Homo sapiens: one gene and its partners. The protein of the gene in region 4 interacts with the protein of the main gene of each other region in a pairwise test. Each region holds a gene or a part of one and is shown on either strand. Other genes may lie near its edges.

Region 1 (3,236 bases), on a different chromosome or scaffold from region 4:
CACCCTCAGTACTTCCTGCACCTCTGAGAAAGGATATTTTCTTGCCTCATCACCACGGATTCCTCAACAATGATAGACACTGTCATGGGAGATCCAGCCTTTGTTGAAGTGGCGTCAGCCATCTCAGAGCTGCCTTCCTTGAGCCAGACCCAGCCATGGCTGTGGCACTGTGTGGCATTGGTTCACCCCGCACAGCAGCCCCTGCTAACTCTTTTGTGCCTGTGATGTGGGAGAGGTGGATGGACACCCACTGGCCTGCAGAATATCTGGCCTTCAGTATACAGGGAGGACTCGGGCTGGGAACTGCTTGGTTTCCCTGAGGGTGGAGAGCCAGGGGTGAGGGTGCAGAGTGGGCCATGTCTAGTGCCCACCTGCGTGGGCTGGGTCTGGGGCTCTCGGGGCTGTGGCTGGCAGCATAGATGGCTCCCAGGGCCAGGCCAGCCCCATCCTGGGGCCTGGTTTTGCTTTGTGGTGAGGGTCTGGGTGCTCAGCTGAGCCTGAGGGCCCTGTGAGATATGGGCAGTTTGCACCATGTCCCCTTGTGCGGAAGAGAACACTGAAGCCGAGGAATTGGCCAGAGTGCGGCCAAAAGTGACCTGCCCCACCCAAGGACTTCCACAACCCACTCTGGGGACGGGGGTTCATGCCAGCTGGGGTGGGCAGGCCCGTGTTTGTCCAGGTCTGTAGGGCCCTTCCCTGTGTCACCTCTATTGTCTTCCCGGGGGGGAGTTCTCCCTGCAGGCCCCAACCCTGACCTCTCTAGCAGTGCAGACAGCAGTTGTGAAGATGAAGTACAGTGAGACAGACACAACCACTGAGTGCAGAATACCACAGGCCGGGAGGAGCCGCGCACTTTGGAATGCAGTGGAGGGCAGGCAGCGGAGGGGAGTTCTGTGCCCTGTCTTGTGTTCCCACTCCTCCCTTCTCACGGCTGTTTTTCTTTCATTACTTCAGTAATTGAGCTGAAAGCTGAGGATCGGAGCAAGTTTCTGGACGCACTTATTTCCCTCCTGTCCTAGGGTGAGTTACAGGGGTTCTGCAGGGGTGGCTGCAGCAGCCCCCTCAGAGCCCGACCCTGATGCCCTGCTCTGTCCTCCCTCAACGGAGGCTTCTACTTGGGTTTCAGACCGAAGCAGGGTTCTTGAGATTGGAGCCAACACATTTTTCCCAAGCACATCTGTCCTTAGGCTGCCAGCAGGGCCACAATGGGGCATTTTGAGGCAGCTAATTTCATTAAGCCCCTGCGATCCCTTCAGAAAGAGCTGGTATTCACCCTCTGCTGACCACACTTGGGCTGGGCATCGCGTGTGACACATGTCACACACAGACTCCCTGGTGCTGCCCTCGAAGGCCACCTGGAGCCTCCTGTCCCACAGCCTTCGTGTCAGGCGCTGGGCAAGAGCCCGCAGAGCAGCCATCCGGGCTTTTGTGTGCTTGGCTCATGAGAAAGCAAAGCTGTTGGCAGCCGCTTAGCTGGGAATTCCAAAGCGCTGGTTCTGCTGGGGCCTTCACCAGCACACAGCTGTCCTGAGGGCCCCATTGGGATTCACTGGCAGGTCACTGTCCCGGGACACCTCCCACTGCCCCATGTGCTACCTCTTTCTTAAGGGTTCCCAGGAAATAGGCCTGCCTTGTGTCTTTGTAACCATCTCTCAGCCCAGGTTCCCCACAGGGAATGCCACATCCAGCCCTGCATCTCCCAGAGCCCTAGCCTGGAGGCTGCGGCTGTGGCAGATGGGCCCTGCCAAGACTCTGTTGCAGGAGGTCCCTCAGGCCAGGCCTGGGGTCCTCCCCACTCTCCCATCCGTCCGTCCATCCATCCATCTGTCCATCCCTCCAGGGGCAAGCACCTGTTCTCCTGTTGGGGCTGGAGTGGGGGTTTCTGCTGACAACAGCATAGGGGGCCTCAGGGACCCCACAGTTCCTCTCAGGGTGGCCTGGGCTACATGGGGCCCATTTTGGGCGCGGGGCTCTGAGTCAGACCCTCGGGGTTTTTGGCAAGTTCTGTAGGGTCATCAGCAGTGACCTTGGGCCAGCCACCTAATCAGGCTTAGCCTGTTTCCTCATCCAAAAATGGGGCCCACTCTCTCCTTAGACGATGAGTGTGAGCATCACAGGACTGCATAGGGTGGGGCGGAGGCAGAGGTGGGGCTCTCTGGCAGTGGAGTGGGTGCTAGAGGCAAACCCCTCCCCTGCAGCCTGCTTGGTGGTGATGTTATGCTGCTGTGTGTCCTTCCACTGAGGCAGGGGCACAGGTGGCCTGGGCTAGGAGGGCTGAGCAGCAGAGTGCCGAGGGATGGAGGGAGAGCCCCCATGGGAGGGTGCCAGGGGGCTGGCTGAGCAGCTGGGCGGGGTCCGTGAGGTAAGAAGGTGCCCGGGCCAGGGGGCAGGAGCTCTGATGTAGGACAGCTCAGCCCAGTCAAGGGGTGCTATGAGGACAGCAGGGGCCTCCGAGTCTGGGGTGGCCTCACCCCCACAAGCAGTCCTGGCTACTCAGCAGCACTACCCAGAGGGGACGCCTGGGCAGTTTCTTCAATTCGGTGGCACATCAACATCGTTTGAAACTTGTTTTTTCTTGTTTTGTTTTCTAGAATTTGATTCTTCCAGAATGACCTTCTTATTTATGTAACTGGCTTTCATTTAGATTGTAAGTTATGGACATGATTTGAGATGTAGAAGCCATTTTTTATTAAATAAAATGCTTATTTTAGGCTCCGTCCCCATTGTGGCTCTGGTCTCGAGGCCAGTGCTTGAGTGTGCTCTGAGCCTTCTGTGGGTCTTGGGCCCCAGGAGCCCTCAGTGCCTGGCAGGAAATCAGCATGGGGATTGGCCCCAAGGACAAGATCTCCTTACTCTGTCCTCCAGGCCCTCCGGGTGGCAGTGGACAGAGGTCAGGACCCCTCGGCATCCCCGCCTCCTCATAGCACCTGCACCGGCCACTGCCTGGTGGTGCCAGCCAGCACCTGGCTCTGTCCACCTACCACTTCCTCTGGTCCACCTGGCCTCAGCCACATAGCAAGTCCACCCTCTCAGCCATCCCTCCACCTGTGGGTCTCACCATCCAGCACTCTTTTCCAGGTCTTTGAAGGCAGGAGTGATTTGGGTAGGTTTTAAGTCAGTGGGGAAAAGCTCAGAAAGAGTGGCCTGGAAAAGAGCACACAGGTAGGTGGGGCTGGTCTTGGTGCAGCCCTTGGCAAAGGGCAGTGGGCACAAAAGGGTGAGAGCTGGACTGGAGG
Region 2 (3,055 bases), on a different chromosome or scaffold from region 4:
AGCTCTGGCCTCTGCTTCTACACATGGACCCTCAGACCTTGCACATCTGTTGTTTCCCTTGCAGGGCAGTGATGATGACATGAAATGAGGTGGGGTCACTCCTGTTTAGGGATGAGACTGGGGCCCAGGGAGGGGCAGGTGTGAAGTTGCTGAGGGCAGAGGGAGACCCAGGGCTACCTGCTCCTAATGACCAGCCTCACGTTCTCCACTGCTCACTCCCTGCTGTTCACCAGCTGCATGACCTTGAGCAGTGCACTCAACTGTAAACAGAGGTGAAAACACTCCTTTACCAACTGTTTTAGGGGCCACTCTTGTTTGAGGCCTTGAACCTCCTTTCAGTTCCGTGGTGGTCCTGAGCCTCTGAATCTGGGTATGGCCCCTGCTGGGTCCTGGTCTCTTAGGCAGCACGATGGCCTCCCTGCTCAAGGCCCTGCACCCAGGGGCAGATTGTGGGAGGCCCACTGGCCATGGCTGGGCCCTATCGCAGAGAGCCTGTCAGCACGGCCATTTCCACACCCAGGCTGGCTGGGAAGCAAGCTACGAGGTGCTCAAAGGCCCTCTATGTCTGCAGGTAGCCCCGTCCCACACAGGCGAGGATCGTTGGGCCTCCTTAGTAGCCAAAGGAACTGAGGTCCAGAGCAGGGAATGTGTTGCCCAGTGTCAGCATGGTCTGCTCTGGGGTCAGGCGTCTTGCCCTGGTCCTAAGCCACCCCAAGCCAAGGCATGTCCCTGGGCCCATTTCCTCTCTCGAGGTCTTGGGTTCCCTATTTCTGATGTGTGTGAAAGGAAGGCCTGTCCTCTGGGGTGACCATGAGGCTCAGTGGGAGGAGCTGCCAGGCTTGAGCTGGGACTTGGCACCTGGCCAGCCTTTTTTCTATTTCATTGTACCTTGATGGGCTGTCAGTTCTGAAGAGAAAAAATACACTAGGAATCCATTCTTCCTCCACCATTCTCCCTGGCAGAGGGAAGTGACTACACCCCTATGGTGTGGACATACTGACGCTCCTCCATGAAGCAGCAAAGTTCTGTTGTTTCAGGAGACTGTGGGCCTTGAGGATGTGGTAGTGACCTCACCAGAGGAGTTGGCAATTCCTAAGTGCTGCCTGGAGGCCTCTACAGAGACATAATGTTGGAGAACTTCTGCCACATGGCAGTGCTGGGTAAGACCCCTCTGTCCCCACCAGTGCCCTTGAGGTTATGGGTGTTGGTAGGTCTGTGGCCTCCATCTCCATGACGATGGTGTTAAGGACTGCATGTTTGTGTCCCCCCCCAAAGTTTATATGTTGAAACCCTGACCCCCAGGAGGGTGGTATTAGGAGGTGGGGCCTTTGGGAGGTGACTAGGCTTAGGTGAGATCGTGAGGGTGGGGCTCGCCGATGAGATCGAGTCCTTATAAGAAAAGGAAGGAACTAGAGCGAGGTCACTTTGTGCTGTGTGAGCATACAAGAAAACTGCCATCTTCAAGCTGGGTGCAGTGGCTCACGCCTGTAATCCCAGCACTGGAAGGCCAAGGCATTAGGATTGCATGAGTCCAGGAGTTCGAGACCAGCCTAGGCATGATAAGACCTTATTGCTAAAAAAAAAAAAAAAGGAAATAAAATAGAAAATTGCCATCTGCAAATGAGAAAGCCTTCAGCCGACACCAGACTGCCAGTGCCTTTGATATTGGACTTTCAGTCCCCAGATCTGTGAAAAATTAATTTATGTTGTTTAAGACACCTAGCCTGTGGTATTTTGTTATCGCAATCAAAACTGACTGAGACAGGCAGTAAGGAGAGAACAGAGGTTCCAGCCTGCTTCAGGTCCAGGCAGTTCTGCCATTGCCCCTAACTCCTCAGTGCCAGTCATGGGCCAGGCCCCTGGGGGACTTGGAATGAGTAAAACATGCACCTATTGTTAAGGTTCACCTGGTCCAGAAGGGGAGGCAGACCCACCTGCCCACCATGACCCGGACAGAGGCAATAAATACGGAGCACCTCATGGCCAGGGCCTGGAGGATTCCCACCATACCCTACCCAGCGCCAATAACAGAGGGACCCTGGAGTTGTGTACGCAAGATAGCAGTTCAGTGCTTGCACACATACTAGTTGAGAAGGGAAATCAGGGCTAATGAAACAGCTCAACTGTCTGGCAGAGCCAGGCTCCTTCTGCCATGATACAGTTTGGATGTTTGTCCCTTTCTAATCTTATATGGAAATTTGATCCCCAGTGTTGAAGGTGGGGCCTGGTGGGAAATGTTCCTGTTATCGGGATGGATCCTTCATGAATAGCCTGGTGCCATCTTTGTGGTAACAAGTGAGTTCTCACTTGATTAGTTTCTGTGAGAACTGTTTGTTAAAAAGAGCCTGGTGGCACCTCCCTCCCTTCTTCCTCCTGCTCTTGCTATGTGATGCTGCTGCCCTTTGCCTTCCGTCATGAGTGGAAGCTCCCTGAAGCCCCCACCAGAAGCAAATGCTGGCACCATGCTGCTTGTACAGCCTGCAGAACTGTGAGCCAAATAAACCTCTTTTCTTTATAAATTACTCAGCCTCAGGTGTTACTTTATAACCATGCAAACAGACCAAGACATGCCATGTGTATTTCATGAAGGGAGCCACAGGGTTGAAGATGTTACAGGACACCTGCTCTAATCCCCACCACTGTGTCTGCCTCCCCACCACTGTGTCTGCCTCCAGAAAGCACACCACTTCTGCTCCTGTCCCTCGAGCCAGGTCCCAGTCATATGAGTACAACTAGTTACAAGGGGTCTGGGTAGCATGATTGTAGAGGATGGGTGAGTGAGTATAGGACTCATCTAGCAGTGCAAGTCAGCCCAGGCCTTGTGCCTTCATGCCCTCTCCAGCAATTATGTCTGAGCTCCTCCAGTTTCTGTAAGGAGAGAGCAGAGTTTCCAGCCTGCTTCAGGTCCGTGAAGTTCTGTGTGCTGCGCGGATGTGGCAGTGACTTCACTAGAGGAGTTGGCAATTCCTAAGCCCTCCCCAGAGGCTTCCACAGAGACATAATGTTGGAGAACTTCTGCCTCATGGCAGTGCTGGGCACAAGATAGATTTATGAG
Region 3 (8,016 bases), on a different chromosome or scaffold from region 4:
AATTGAACAATGAGAACACTTGGACACAGGGCGGGGAACATCACACCCCAGGGCCTGTCAGGTGGTAGGGGGCTGGGGGAGGGATAGCGTTAGGAGAAATACCTAATGTAAATGATGAGTTGATGGGTGCAGCAAACCAACATGGCACATGTATACCTATGTATCAAACCTGCACGTTGTGCACATGTACCCTAGAACTTAAAGTATAATAATAATAAAAAAGACACATGCACACGTATGTTTATTGCAGCACTATTCACAATAGCAAAGACTTGGAACCAACCCACATGTCCATCAATGATAGACTGGATTAAGAAAATGTGGCACATATACACCATGGAATACTATGCAGCCATAAGAAAGGATGAGTTCATGTCCTTTGCAGGGACATGGATGAAGCTGGAAACCATCATTCTGAGCAAACTATCACAAGTTCTCACTCATAGGTGGGAGTTGATCAACGAGAACACATGGGCACAGGGAGGGGAACGTCACACAACAGGGCCTGTCGGTGGGTGGTGGCCTGGGGGAGGGATAGCATTAGGAGAAATACCTAATGTAAATGACGCGTTGATGGATGCAGCAAACCAACATGGCACATGTATACCTATGTAACAAACCTGCACGTTGTGCACATGTACCCTAGAACTTAAAGTATAATTAAAAAAAAAAAAGAAAAGGTTATTTATGAAACAATGTAGTAAGGAACCAGTAAGTAGGGGAGAGAAATGTGAAAAAAAAAAGTTTAGATAATAAAATATTCCTTAAAACCTGATAGAAAATTGGAGAAATTTGACTAATTAACATTTCATAGTTAGAGCTCTTAGTCTTGCCTAAAGTAAAATAAGAAATATAAGTATATTTTTTAATATACTTAAGCATGAAGCTGGTTAAGTATGGAGCTAAATTTCACATACATGCATGCATTGCTTCACACCGTTTACTGTTTTGCATGGATAGTGCTGGCACTGGAGTACTTATTGGTCATGTGCCTAGAGTGAATTTCTTGATTGTACAGGATGTATGATGATATTGGTGGACTTAAGGATATTGAATGGTGTATCAGGAATAAAATATTCATTATATGGGTGTTTGGGGGCCCTGAGTAACACTGTAGCCTCCAGGGTAGATTGAGTAGGAAAAATTTAGGGTGGGGTTCCTGTTTGTTTTTGCTTCTAATTTTCATTTGTTTGCTGTTTATTCTCCTCCAGGCTTTGCTTGTGGTCGCATAAATAGAAAACCATTTTTTTGTTTGTTGTTTTAGTTTCTAGTGGAAGGCTTTTATTTGGTTCTGTGAATAGTTATTTTATTTTCTATGCATTTCTACCAAGTCATCATTTGTTCCATTTATCTGGAATTCCTAGGCTACCTTTGTTGAGCTCACAGGAATTGGTGGAGCACACTAAGCTTTTTAACCTTAAACTAACTTTTTGGATATTAGGCTTCCTGATACTTTAAGTATATTGAGTATACTTTTGTAAATAGAACTTGAGTCATATTTCTCTCTCTCTGCCTAATTTCTTCAAAATTTGTAAATTGTTTGTGAATATTCTTAATTCATAGCAATGTGTTTGTTTGCATACAGTTGAGCAGGGTCACTAGGGCTGCTCATGGAGAGAGAACTCAAGAAAGCTGACATGCCGGCAAAAGGGTAAGAATTTCTTACCAGTTGGACTTCTGGCCCCTCTTTGTGCAAACTGGTTGAATGAATGGTAAAATATAATGAGAAGGCATGAGAATGTTAATTTTTATAAACATTTAACAAGCTTCCCAAAATCAAATTGCAGCTTCAAAATTGTCTTTTCTGACCTCAAACTTTGAGATGCTACAGCAGGCCCGTGAACCATCCAAAAGAGAGGTAAACAGGATTATTTGATATGTTTAGTTACATGGGAAGCATTGTGAAAATAAAAAATAATGTTTAATCATCTTCAGGTTATATATTAGTGAATGATATTAATATATGTTCCAGAATTGTATGGAATTTCTAAAATTCTAATATGTCTGAGTATATGCTATCAATCATAATTATTGTGTTATTGTAGACCACAGAAATAACCAAATCTCCTTGTCAATAGTGTTTTTAACTATCACTATTTAAAGTCATTTGAACTCCATGGTCTAAGTCAAATCAGCTATGAAAACCCATTAGTTATCAGTGCTATGCACCTAAATTGGAGAAACAACTGGTATTCAAGAGGACATAAGTCCAGTGTTAAGCATGGACTCATGGAAAACCAAGATGGCCACCTTGTTCTTCCTGAGTCCTTAAAGCTTTTGTTATTAAAGTTTCTGCATTCCGTGACTCATCATGGAAAAGATAAAATGATCCAGATTAAATATATACTGGTTTGCTGACTTATAAATTGCTAAAATAGTTTATAACCAATGTTTGGTTTACAATCAAAGCTTCAGGTACATTTGGCTACCTGATGGGCCATTTAAACATTTAAATTGTCATTTTATTTATTTATTTTTTTTTTTTTGAGATGGAGACTCGCCTGTTGCCAGGCTGGAGTGCAGTGGTGCAAGCTCAGCTCACTGCAACCTCCACCTCCCAGGTTCAAGTGATTCTCCTGCCTCAGCCTCCTGAGTAGCTGGGATTACAGGCATGTGCCACCACGCCGGGCTAATTTTTGTATTTTTATTAGAGACAGGGTTTCACCATGTTGATCAGGCTGGTCTCAAACTCCTGACCTTGTGATCTGCCCACAATGGCCTCCCAAAGTGCGGGGATTACAGGTGTGAGCCACTGCACCCAACCATCATCCTTCATTTACATAGGGCATACACCAGGTAACCAATGCAAACCTCTAGAGGGTATTGAAATCCCAGAAAATTCTGTAACTGGTCCCTTGAGCCACTTGCTCAGGCCTGCTCCCACCCTGTGGAGTGTGCTTTCATTTTCAATAAATCTCTGCTTTTGCTACTTCATTCTTTCCTTGCTTTGTTTTGCATTTTCAATTCTTTGGTCAAAACGCCAAGAACCTGGACACCGTCCACCCATAACAGTTTCGCTAGTTGCATGTGATTGTAAGACAAATAAAAATGATGTTGTGGGCTGGGTGCGGTGGCTCACGCCTGTAATCCCAGCACTTTGGGAGGCCGAGGCGGGTGGATCACAGGGTCAGGAGATCAAGACCATCCTGGCTAACACGGTGAAACGCCATCTCTACCAAAAATACAAAGAATTAGCCAGGCGTGGTGGCGGGCGCTTGTAGTCCCAGCTACTCGGGAGGCTGAGGCAGGAGAATGGTGTGAACCCGGGAGGCGGACTTGCAGTGAGCTGAGATCGCGCCACTGCATTCCAGCCTGGTCGACAGAGCCAGACTCCGTCTCAAAAAATAAAAATTAAAAAAAAAAAAAGATGTTGAGGCAGGAGTATAGGGCCTGAAGGCAGGGAACCTAAAGACTTTCTAGAACTAAATCAAATGGAAACACTTCAGCTATGACAGGAAATATTCTCTTCATTTACATAGGGTGTACACTGAGTAAATGACTTCGTAACTTCACTTCGTCCTCTTCATTTACATAGGGCGTACACCCAGTAACCAATGGGAAACCTCTAGAGGGTATTGAAACCCCAGAAAATTCTGTAACAAGGTCCCTTGGGCCTCTTTCTTGGGCCCACTCCCACCGTGTGGAGTGTCTTTTCGTTTTCAATAAATATTCGCTTCTGTTGCTTTGTTTTTCCCTTGCTTTGTGTGTTTCGTCCAATTCTTTGTTCAAAACGCCAAGAACCTGGACAACTTGCAGTCCAGACCCTCCTCTAGTAACAATGTTATATAAGTATTTGGTTGATGTTAGAGTAATCACTGGATGGGTTCTTCCTGCCTGCTGCACAAACAAAATCAATTCAGGAAGACCACAGCATTGCAGTAAGGAAAGAGTTTAATTGATGTGAGGCTGGCCACGCCACATGGGACATGGAGTTATTACTCAAATCAATCTCATCGAAGGCTAGTAGGTTAGGGGTTTTTCAAAGGTGGTTTGGTGGGCAGGGGCTAGGGTATGGAAAATGCTGACTGGTTGGGTTGGAGATGAAATCATAGGGGTTGAAGCTATCCTCTTGTACTGAGTTGCTTGTGGGTGGGGCCACAGGAGCTGTTGACTGGTCCAGGTGGAGCCATCAGTGTCAGGCAAACGTGAAAAAATATCTCAAAAGGCCAAACTTAGGTTCTACAATAGTAATGTTACCTGCAGGAGTAAATGGGGAAGTTGTCTATCTGGTGGCTTCCGGAATAATGGCTGGCAATGGTCTATGTTTACACCTTAGCAGAGAGAATTCACACTCCTCTGTCCTCCTAGCCTGGTGGTCTCTCGGTTAGCTTTACAAAGGCAGTTGAGTTTTGGGGAAGGGCTATTATCATTTAAACTATAAACCAAATGTCTCCCAAAGTTAACTTGGCCTAAGCTCAGGAATAATTAAGGGCAGCTAAAGGCAAGATGGGGTTGGTTAAATCAGATCTCTTTGACTGCCATAATTTTCTCACTGTTAGAATTTTTGCAAAGGCTGTTTCATTAGTACCCTACTCATTTAGGTGAAATGAACAATGTGTATTTTATGTGTTCCAGATGTGTATCAATATCACATAACTGTCAGGGAGGGCCCCAGGTATCTGTCCCTGTTCAGAAAGATCATGAAGATGAATACCGCGATGAGGACAGCTTGCCCGTCTCAGCGAACTCAGAACTTGTCCTCAGTAGCCAGCCCCTATGGGCCAAGGGGTTACAAACTTCGACTTGCCGGCAATTACAGCTGTTTTCCATCATTCTCCTTGCTGTACCTTCTGGTGGGAGCAGCATGGGAGTTAATAAAGGGAAAGCGACAAGCGTCTGTAGAGCGCCGGGTGGGGTCTCGGGAGAGGAGGGCTGGGTGGGAAGAGGCGCGGCGGGAGGCGGCGCCCCGGCTCGCATTGGCCCAGCCGGCGTCCCTCCTCTGGAGGAGGCCGGGCGCGCCCGGAAAAGTGGTTTGCCTGACGGCGAGAGGCAGAGGTGCCCTCGGTGATAGAGGAAACATGGCCGAGTATACGCGGCTGCACAACGCCTTGGCGCTAATCCGCCTCCGAAACCCGCCGGTCAACGCGATCAGGTAACGGGCTCGGTCGCCTCCAGCCCGGGGACCGTGCGGGCCTTAGCCGCCCTCTGGCTCCGGAGGCTTTGACTCTCCCCCGTCGGTTTAAACCGAGAAGGACACTCAAGAGTTGAGCAACTGGTACATGCCAGGAACTTTTTTTTTCTTTTCTTTCTTTCTTTTTCTTTTCTTTTTTTTTTTTTTTAACCTAGATTAGCTTGGTTAATCTTCGCAGGGAACTCTCGTCCCCGTTTTACTGATAAGGAAACTGAGGCTGAGGCTGAGACAGATCAACACTTAGGGAGTTGGCCTCGACCTGTCCTTCATGCGGAGCCCTCCTGCTTACTTGCAACTTTGGCTTTGCAGGCCGACTTTTTATTTTTCTTTTTTTTTTTTAATTATACTTTAAGTTTTAGGGTACATGTGCACAACGTGCAGGTTAGTTACATATGTATACATGTGCCATGTTGGTGTGCTGCACCCATTAACTCGTCATTTAATATTAGGTATATCTCCTAATGCTATCCCTCCCCCCTCCCCCCACCCCACAACAGGTCCCAGTGTGCAGGCCGACTTTCTAATCCAAAGGTCTTAACTTAGTTTGATGTTGGACTTTGATCCAGCCTCACTCCCCTTCTTTGAGTCCAGGCTGTCCTTACAATGTTTGGCTAAAGGCTTTAGGAATAGGGCAATCACTGGCATTAGTGGGACTTTTTTTTTTTTTTTTTTTAATGTTAAAAGTCCCACTAATGCCAGCTCAGTGATTAAAGCAGAATTTTGCCCTGGCCCGGAAACGCAAAATTATTTCTCCTGATTTGTTTAAACCTCAGGACTTTGGTGCTTCCAAGGAAGACTCACATCAGACTAAGCCTATGCAATAGCATTTTCTGAAAAATTGCACCTTATCTTCTTTTTCTCACTGGGGAGTATTTGCCTTGTGTGGTGCACTTTAAACATTAAAAAGTGAGATCAATGTTGCCTTTTTGAAAAGTAATGATTATTTGGTTTGGTCCTTCTACATCTCTTAAAAAAATAATTATATGTCAGCCTTGAAAAAGAATTACCTATCCACAGGGAATAAGATTAGTGGAAATTATAATTTATCAAGAATATATAAAGCATAGAGAGAAAGGTCTTTGGTCAAAATTCTTATAACATGCTGCTGAAGCAAAGAGACTGAAATGAGAAGACCTGCTAATTTTAATAGAATTTAAAAATCCTACTGTCATTGGATTTGATTTATCATTAGTATTAATATTAATTCATTATGAATTATTGCATTTAATAATGTCAAAAAATGCAGGACTAAAATCACATAAGGATGACATGTCTACTAACTTGCCATTCCCAGAATAAAAAGCAAAATATCTGTTATATTGGTTTTGACAAAGAAAAATGTAAGTAATATGATTACATGTCAATTTTGGACTGGTCTATATACTGATTAGAATTGCTAGATATTAGGACCTTAGGGGGAAAAGTTCCATACTCTAATACCCATGACTAGGAATATTTTCTGACAACTGTTTTTTTTTTTTCTTTTTTTTTTAAGCTCATTTGCTTGTTTTGAGACGGAGTCTTGCTCTGTCGCCAGGCTGGAGTGCAGTGGCGTGATCTCAGCTCACTGCAACCTCTGCCTCCCGGGTTCAAGTGATTCCCCTGCCTCAGCCTCCCGAGTAGCTGGGACTACAGGTGCGTGCCACCACGCCCAGCTAATTTTTTGTATTTTAGTAGAGACGGGGTTTCACCATGTTGGCCAGGATGGTCTCAATCTCCTGACCTCGTGATCCACCTGCCTCGGCCTCCCAAAGTGCTGGGATTACAGGCATGAGCCACGTGCCCAGCCTCTGACAATTGCTTTTAATATTTCTGGAATTTAACCTGCTCTCCTTGCCCACCCATGCAACCACCTGTGCCACCCCCATCCTCTTTGCAGGAGAAATGTTAGGGCCTACCTCATAAAGTTGTGAAGTTTAAATCAGCTGGAAATTATGAAGTGGCATTTAATAGATGTTAGTTATTCCTATTAGTCAGAAGACCTGTTCAAGCCCCAAAAACAGGCCCTGCTACTCAGGACCCACTTCAGTTTCATCAAGAAGATATTCTCCACTTGGGAATAAGTACTTCTCTGCCCTTTTTTGTCTGTCTTCTGAACTTTTTTAGGTAGAAATGGACATCCTAGGAGTTCCTCAAGTTTAACAGATTCCTCAATTTTTTTCTTACACTTTTTCTTTCCTCCCTTTCTTCCTTTTCCCCTTCCTATTTCTAATTTTATATGGGAAGTCGTCTCCTCCTAGCTGATTGAGAGATTCTTACTTGAGTGTAATACACACACACACACACACACACACACACACATATAAATTTTTTCCCCAAAACAAATAGTTTAAATCCTTCATTGCTAGTTTAGCCAGCCATGTTTGCTTCCATTCAGATAAACACCAGCCCTCTTTATAAGTATAGGACATGCCTGATTAATAGGCCTGTCTCCCAGAACAATGGCTTTCACACGATTGCTTTACTGTAATCCACAGAGTAAGAAAGCTCACGTTTTTACGTAGCAATTCAAGACACACTTACATACAAACACGTAACCGAAAGCAGTTTCCTAAAACAAAACCTATCCTTACTTGGTATATTGTTTGATATAGTCTATTTTCTCATCTCTTCTTTTTCTTTGAAAAAATCCTGGTCACAAGCCACAAACTTGATTTGATGACTTTTGGTTTAAAAAAAAAAACTGTCTAAAAAAAAAAGGAAAGACCTTCTATAGTCAAAGAAGCTGAAGAGTTTTGGTCAGTAGTCATGAAATGCTGTCTCTACTCCAGACTCTATTTCTTCATGCCTGACAGTATTAACAGGAGAAAATAATTTCATAACTTCTGCGGCCTTTACATTGCTATGACTCTCTCTGTCAGCTTGAATCTAGTAAAGTGCGTATC
Region 4 (7,047 bases):
ATTATGATTGGGATTGCATTGAATCTGTAGATTTAATTGGGGTGATGGTGGTATTGCCAGCTTGACAATATTGAGCCTTCCAATCCATGAACATGGAATTGAGTTTTGAATGTTAAACCAAACTGGTATTCCTGTACCATTTGGTCATATATTGCTGGATTTGGTTTGCTTGTCTGTTCTTATGGAGACTCTGGTAGTATCAGAGTTTAGGTCTTGGGGTGGTGAGGATGAACATTTTAACATGTTTAGTTTTAAAGTATATTTCATTGAACCTCCCTTCTTCAGTGGTCTTTGAAGAGTTTTGAGTGCAATCACCATTGAATTTCTGGCTGGCTTAGCTGTCTTATTTATAAAGTTATTTTAGGCACCAAGAAATTTCTAACTGCATATAACTTTCAGTATTGACAATTTCTCTGATATTTCTCCTTGAACTTTTCAAAACAATGTATTTCATCACTGTTGCCAAAATTTTCAAGACACATTTATCTTAGCGATTATAAAAGAATATACATATTTTAATTTTAAAACATTTGGAATTATGATTAAACATCCTCAGTTACGTGGAGTATGAAAAATGTTTTAAACTGAGTTAAACCTCTGGAACATTATATTTTAATTTCTTTAGGAAATATATTTACTCTCTAAGGAGCCCTTCATTAAATTACTGTAAAGTTACTTGTGACACCACCCATTTAACTTTTTTTTTCCCCCCGCAATATAGCCGGGGTCTCACTATGTTGGCCAGGTTGTTTTGAATTCTGGACCTCAGGCAATCCTCCTCCTTCAGCTTCCCAAAGTGCTAGAATTACAGGTGTGAGTTACCACACGTGTTCACGTTTAACTTTAATATGCTGAAACTTTTTAACAACAGGAACAGATTGGTCTTTTGTTTCTTTTACCTAGAATTCAGATGTATAGAAGATAAATGTGATGTTATAAACAGATTAAATGTCTGTCTGCATTTTAGAGGTCTTAGTTGGCTTGTTTTTATAAGACAGTGAACCATAATTTTGAGCATAATTATTTCTGAATTTTTATATTTGATAGACAAAGAATCGATGTGTTTTCAGTAATTCAGTGTTAAGCATAAAGAAGGAATGTTTTCTGTCATTGCAGTGGGTTTCTTTTTGGTTGCTTTTGAATTATTAGGTGATCATCAGAGAAATTATTTATGGAAAGAAATCTCAGGGAGATGATCTTGATACTATGAACACACGGAATATTTCCCACCTGTTGTTTATACAAGTGATCAAGTAGGTGGTGTACTATACATTGATAGAGAAATGTAGTGTCTTTGTATACAACATTTCAGATGACTTTTTTTTTTTTTTTTTGTAAACTAATTGTGGACAGTGGAAAATAACCAGTCTCATCATTAGCGTTTGAAGTTTGAAAATTTGGTTGTCGGTAAATCAAATTCTGACTAAAGATGTTAAAGGATGTTACAAGGTATCTGCTAGTGGAAGAGGGAGGCATTTTTCATTAGAAAAATACATTACCAACCAGACAAAATAAAATTATTAATTGTTTCACAGACTGCTTAAAGACTGCATTAAATAAAAATGATCAGAACTTTAAATGTTTTATTTATAGAAGACTATTTATTTATTTTTTTACTATCCTGCTTTTTTAGGTTTTACACACGCTGGAAAGATTGGGAATCATGGTATTCTCAGAGCTTTGGTTTACATTTTTCCTTGAGAGAAGAACAGTGGCAAGAAGACTGGGCATTTATACTCTCTCTTGCTAGTCAGGTGAGGATGCTTCAAGTCTTGTTGCTTCTATGAGAAAAGTAAGCATGTAGTCTAAACTGGTTTATTTGAGCAAACCATGTTGGGGGCAATGTGGTCAAAGAAAAGAATGCTTGACGTGGTATCATCAGTCAACTTGGGTTCTAGTGATGACTGCTGTGTATCAAATAAATAGCATCGCAAGTATAGATGAGCATCGCAAGTATAGATTAGCATCGCAAGTCCTCACTGCAGAGCAGGAAGAGTAACGTGTTTTTATATCGAATGATTAAAAACATCAAAAAGTGAAAGCTGTGCTATGACGGTTACATACAGTAGATAGTCTTGGGATTGCTCTCCGTTCCTGCAGCATAGGCTTGATGCCTATGGTACCTATCCAGGTGAGCTCTGTTCTGTCTCTGGGGACACTTAAGATTACTGGTGTAGGTACTTGCATTGCTGTTGCTGATCTGTCAGGCCCTGAGGAACCAGTTGTCAATCTTCATAATGCTCCCTGTGGTGAGGCAATACCTGTGTCATGTAGGCAAAGGAAAAGGGTAGTTTAGCTTACTCTGAACTAATTACCATCAATAGGAATGATTTCTGATTAATGTGGGAATGAAGTTTTGCAAGTTTGCTAACGTCTTTTTATTAATGAAGGCTGCTTGTGACACAGAACTGTGTAGGGTTGTCCCTTAGACTCTTGGTTTCATGCTTTATTTTGTGAAGCACTTCAGTATACCAAACTGTAAAGTACAAATATATATACAACTACTCCTTTTTTTTTGCAGAAAGCACCATGGTTCATTTGAACTTAGAGAAGGAGGTACCCGATCTTTGGGCAATTTGGGCAGGATTCATAGTGGTTGATTTACATGAGACATGTATCTCACACCATGCATTGTAGCTCGATGATGGACCCATTTAATATTAGTATTCACGAGTTAGTTGATACTGCCATTTACATTTGCATGAAACAGGCTCACTTATTTATTTCAGGAGGACTTTGTTGTAGGTAGTGCTTTCACAGTAACTTAACGAGAATGTGATAATAAAGCATCCTTAGTTATCTGAATCTCTGGTTCCTGAGGTTGGAGAGTTAGTAGTGAGGGATATTTCAAAGTATGTATGCACATCTGTATAATTTGTGAGTTTGGATGGTAAATGATATTTGCATGTAGCCTTTATAGATTTCTTTTACAGTTTTACTGGATTTATTATTTGAGGAATCAAATGCTGCTTTGACAATCTTTTCTTTCTTAAAAACCAACTGCGATAGTATACTGAAGGGGAGGTAGTATTGTTTTTTACACATCAGTTTTCCAGGAGTGGTAATAAATGTTTTAAGTTTTTGTTTTGTTTCGTACAGCCTGGAGCAAGCTTGGAGCAGACGCACATTTTTGTACTGGCACATATTCTTAGACGACCAATTATAGTTTATGGAGTAAAATATTACAAGAGTTTCCGGGGAGAAACTTTAGGATATACTCGGTTTCAAGGTAAGCCATTATTCAGGAACGTTTTACAAGTTTCTTTGAACGGAATGGCTCAGATGTCAGGAAGGAGCAGTGGACAGGGGAATGTGAACAAGGGCAGTGAGGGAGTGGCTCTTTCTTCCTGTGACTGTTGGGATTTTCTTCCCTCTCTTTCCAGGTGTTTATCTGCCTTTGTTGTGGGAACAGAGTTTTTGTTGGAAAAGTCCGATTGCTCTGGGTTATACGAGGGGCCACTTCTCTGCTTTGGTTGCCATGGAAAATGATGGCTATGGCAACCGAGGTGCTGGTGCTAATCTCAATACCGATGATGATGTCACCATCACATTTTTGCCTCTGGTTGACAGTGAAAGGAAGCTACTCCATGTGCACTTCCTTTCTGCTCAGGAGGTAAGCAGTTTCTCCTATGAACTATTTCTAGTAGTGACCTTGTACCAGAAACAGCCTGAAGTGCCTTTCAGGTGTGGTTTTATCTGCACTATCACTTAATTTCTGAATGTGATGGTAGTAATTGCTGAAGGTACTAGCTATACTTTGAAATTTACCTTTTCAAAACTGCTGTATGGGGACACATCAAGGAACTTAAGGTGGTGATGGGTTTTAAGAAGAAAAAGTAAAGATGAGGTTTGTGATTTAAATATGGCATTTTAGGGAATGAGAAGTGAGTTTTTATCTGAAAGCAGAGTTCCAAGAATTGCAAGGCCAGTGTGGTTTAAGAGGGGAAGCAACAGGGAAAGAGAGAGGGTAGGCGGCAGGGGGAGGGAGGAAGGGAGAAGAGGTCAGAGAGGATAGGGATGGGGGGGAGTTCATTGAAGGCTTTTTAAAGCTTTGGGTTTTACTCTGGATAACGTGGTAAACCAATGGCCAGTTTACCCAGAAGAGGAACATTTGGGGTCTGGTGCATGGCAGGAGCAGGAACACCAGGTATTGTAGATGAAGGGGAGTGAAAGGGTGCTGTAGACCAGACAGGGGAGGTGGTGAGAAGGTACAAAAACAACGCTCTTTCAGAAAGCCAGTATTCTTATAAAAGTATTGGTCTTTTATTTAATATACTAGTAATTATAAAACGTTTATAATCACAACATGAAGAAAAAAAGTTCATAGACCGTAACTTGTATAATTTCAGCTTGTACATAATTGACTAAGTAAACTTACCTTGTCATGTGTTTGAAGCTGTGGCTTGCCAGGATCAGTTTATTAGGACATTTGTTTTTTATTTTATCTAACAAATTACCCTCTAGTGTGCTCCTCTTTAGTTTTTTTCTGAGAAATTTCCCATTTATGTCTTTTTAAATTTAACCAGAGCAAACTGGACTTTAATCACAAAACTTCCAAGAGGTCAAAACCATGTGAAAAGTTGATTGCTTTGGCCTTTTCATGAGTTAGCATACCAGCTGTAGGTTTCCATGTCACATTCCTACCAAGTCTCTGATCTGTTGTATGATTTTCCCTTTGTCTTCATATTCCTCCAAAAGCTAGGTAATGAGGAACAGCAAGAAAAACTGCTCAGGGAGTGGCTGGACTGCTGTGTGACGGAGGGGGGAGTTCTGGTTGCCATGCAGAAGAGTTCTCGGCGGCGAAATCACCCCCTGGTCACTCAGATGGTAGAAAAATGGCTTGACCGCTACCGACAGATCCGGCCGTGTACATCCCTGTCTGATGGAGAGGAAGATGAGGATGATGAAGATGAATGAAAAAAAAAATCAAACAGCAGAAGACCAAGGCATCAGATCTGTAATGACCCTAAAGTTAGTGTGGTGCTCCAAGCAGAGTCGACATCATGGAATGAACCAAATCTGGCAGGATCTGCTCGGGGAAGTGTTTTCCTGGACCACACACACCTTATGGAGATAATGCCTCTGCTGCGTGAGGAGACAGAGAACTTTAGTTGGACTACAGTTTGTAAAAAAAACTAATTTTATTAAGACAGAACTTTTTTTCCTTCCAAATTGTAAATCTGTCTATAAATGTAACGCATGTGGTTGTGTAAGACATTGTTTAATAGGAAAAGTTGTACCAGCATCTTCATATTATTGAGAAAATTTTTTCCAGCATGGGCACTTAGAAAAAGCACATGGCAAATGGCTCTTTGTTCCTTTCAGATATTATTTCAGTAGAACCTGGCATTCTACTTTCACCTTAAAAGATCCATCTAAGTCTCAGATCTGGAAACGTTTTGTACCGATTATCCACAGCAAAACAAAAATAAGCTTTTATTTTATTAATAATTTCGTTCCTCTTGTGCCCAATCAAATCTTTTAGGAACAAACTGCAAGAAAAGCTAAGAATGTTTTAGAGTGAACTAAATACAGACATTGCTTACTTGTTTTGAAGAGGGTTTTGGTTTTGGTTATTGTGTCTTTAAGTTTTCTGATATGCCCCCTTTCAATATTTAGATATTTATTTGTTGGGAAGAATACCTTAAAATGAGGGTTCTTATTCCAGATTCTGGGCAGTGGTCTGTGAGTAGTTTTTTTCCTGGATGAAAAGGGAGCAAGCCCACTTGTCACTAAATGAATTGTGTGAAATGTGCTCACTTGGACTCCATCAACAATGTGCTGCTCCCAGATTGCCATGCCAGAGGGTCTTCGGATTCTTCCTTCTATCACCTCTGCTCTAAGCAAATCTTGTTAGAAGGGCATGCCTTTGCTTAGGCAGATTGGGAATACCAATTCACTACAGAATAAAGATTTTAAAAATGCAATAAGGTGGCAAATGCATTGTATGAAGAATTTCTCAGTGTTTAGTCTGAGAATTTTTGCATGTTGGTTAATTGTGGCCATTCTTTAATTTAAAGTTAAAACTATAATCTTAGGTAGAAAAACTTTTTTATAAGAAGTATTATTTGACCACTTCAGGTATACATTCAATACTGGGTAAAAATTTCAGACCTATCTCAGGAACACAGAAATATTTGGTGTCCTGATAAGCACTTTCTAGACTATTGATGTGGCCAGGAATTTGGAAAGACGACACACGCACGCGCGCGCGCGCACACACACACACACACACACACACACACACAGTTTTTTCCTTCCCTGTGATGAAAAAGGCTGTGAAAACCTTAAAGTATTTGCTTGCTTCTTGTTTTGTTTAGTTGATAATGAAATGTGTACAACCTCAAATTTGCTGCCAGAATACTAAAAATAGAAAAATACCCACAAAACTGTCATGTCTTTAGTTCTTTCCCCCCGAAAACTCAGTAAAAAGGTGTTCCCAGGATGAAAAGATCATTTTTTGCTGCATGCTAAATCTTGCAGGAAAAATGATTTTTTAGTACGATTCTGTAGAAATGAATCTTTGATATAATGTAAATGCTGCTGTTTGTTTCAAGTGGTGAATGTGTTGTTAAAAATTGGCTGTTTGCTTTCATTTTGGCCAATAAGTAATCAAGTTTGTAGAAAATGTTAGCATTCTGACTACTTAGCATCTGTAGTAATTTCTCTATGTATAGGGATAATTTTTTAGTGGGCAGAGATCCTGTTCTAGTTGCCTGTTAAGCAAAATCTGCCCTCCCAATTGAAAAAGCCAAAGAGAATTGTTAGAGGGAAAAGCATGTAGCCATTGCAGTCTGCATTGCAGCCAGCGTTGTCCAGAGTACACGCTCAGCACTTAGCTTCTACTGTGTGTTGTGGTCTGGTGAGTGTTGTTTCCCCTGAGCGCTCTATTATTTATTTATTTATTATCAATCAGTGACCCTGACCACATAGTGTGATAGGTGCAGCATTCTTCCCTGTGGGAAAGAATTAAAGATGGTTCCATTTCCTAGGCTACAGACAGGAATGGGGCTCTAAATGGTTTTCATAGACTGGCTGTTAAAGGCC

What was found.
Region 1: the proteins of ZRANB1 (region 4) and CDC45 interact in binary tests that used the Homo sapiens proteins (3 or more experiments, as listed by UniProt).
Region 2: the proteins of ZRANB1 (region 4) and JRK interact in binary tests that used the Homo sapiens proteins (3 or more experiments, as listed by UniProt).
Region 3: the proteins of ZRANB1 (region 4) and EHHADH interact in binary tests that used the Homo sapiens proteins (3 or more experiments, as listed by UniProt).

Annotation. Positions count from the first base shown.
Region 1 is NC_000022.11:19,517,890-19,521,125, forward strand, and holds the end of CDC45 (cell division control protein 45 homolog), read left to right. Parts: intron 1-954; coding exon 955-1,019; 3' UTR 1,020-1,020; intron 1,021-2,591; 3' UTR 2,592-2,719; downstream 2,720-3,236. UniProt on the Homo sapiens protein: Required for initiation of chromosomal DNA replication. Core component of CDC45-MCM-GINS (CMG) helicase, the molecular machine that unwinds template DNA during replication, and around which the replisome is built.
Region 2 is NC_000008.11:142,656,927-142,659,981, reverse strand, and holds the end of JRK (jerky protein homolog), read left to right. Parts: 3' UTR 1-1,037; coding exon of another isoform or gene 1,038-1,127; 3' UTR 1,128-2,522; downstream 2,523-3,055. UniProt on the Homo sapiens protein: May bind DNA.
Region 3 is NC_000003.12:185,251,025-185,259,040, reverse strand, and holds the start of EHHADH (peroxisomal bifunctional enzyme), read left to right. Parts: upstream 1-4,991; 5' UTR 4,992-5,018; coding exon 5,019-5,092; exon of another isoform or gene 5,093-5,215; intron 5,216-5,768; exon of another isoform or gene 5,769-5,831; intron 5,832-8,016. UniProt on the Homo sapiens protein: Peroxisomal trifunctional enzyme possessing 2-enoyl-CoA hydratase, 3-hydroxyacyl-CoA dehydrogenase, and delta 3, delta 2-enoyl-CoA isomerase activities. Catalyzes two of the four reactions of the long chain fatty acids peroxisomal beta-oxidation pathway.
Region 4 is NC_000010.11:124,980,076-124,987,122, forward strand, and holds part of ZRANB1 (ubiquitin thioesterase ZRANB1), read left to right. Parts: intron 1-1,149; exon of another isoform or gene 1,150-1,253; intron 1,254-1,633; coding exon 1,634-1,754; intron 1,755-3,099; coding exon 3,100-3,229; intron 3,230-3,383; coding exon 3,384-3,613; intron 3,614-4,241; exon of another isoform or gene 4,242-4,698; coding exon 4,699-4,917; 3' UTR 4,918-7,047. UniProt on the Homo sapiens protein: Ubiquitin thioesterase, which specifically hydrolyzes 'Lys-29'-linked and 'Lys-33'-linked diubiquitin. Also cleaves 'Lys-63'-linked chains, but with 40-fold less efficiency compared to 'Lys-29'-linked ones.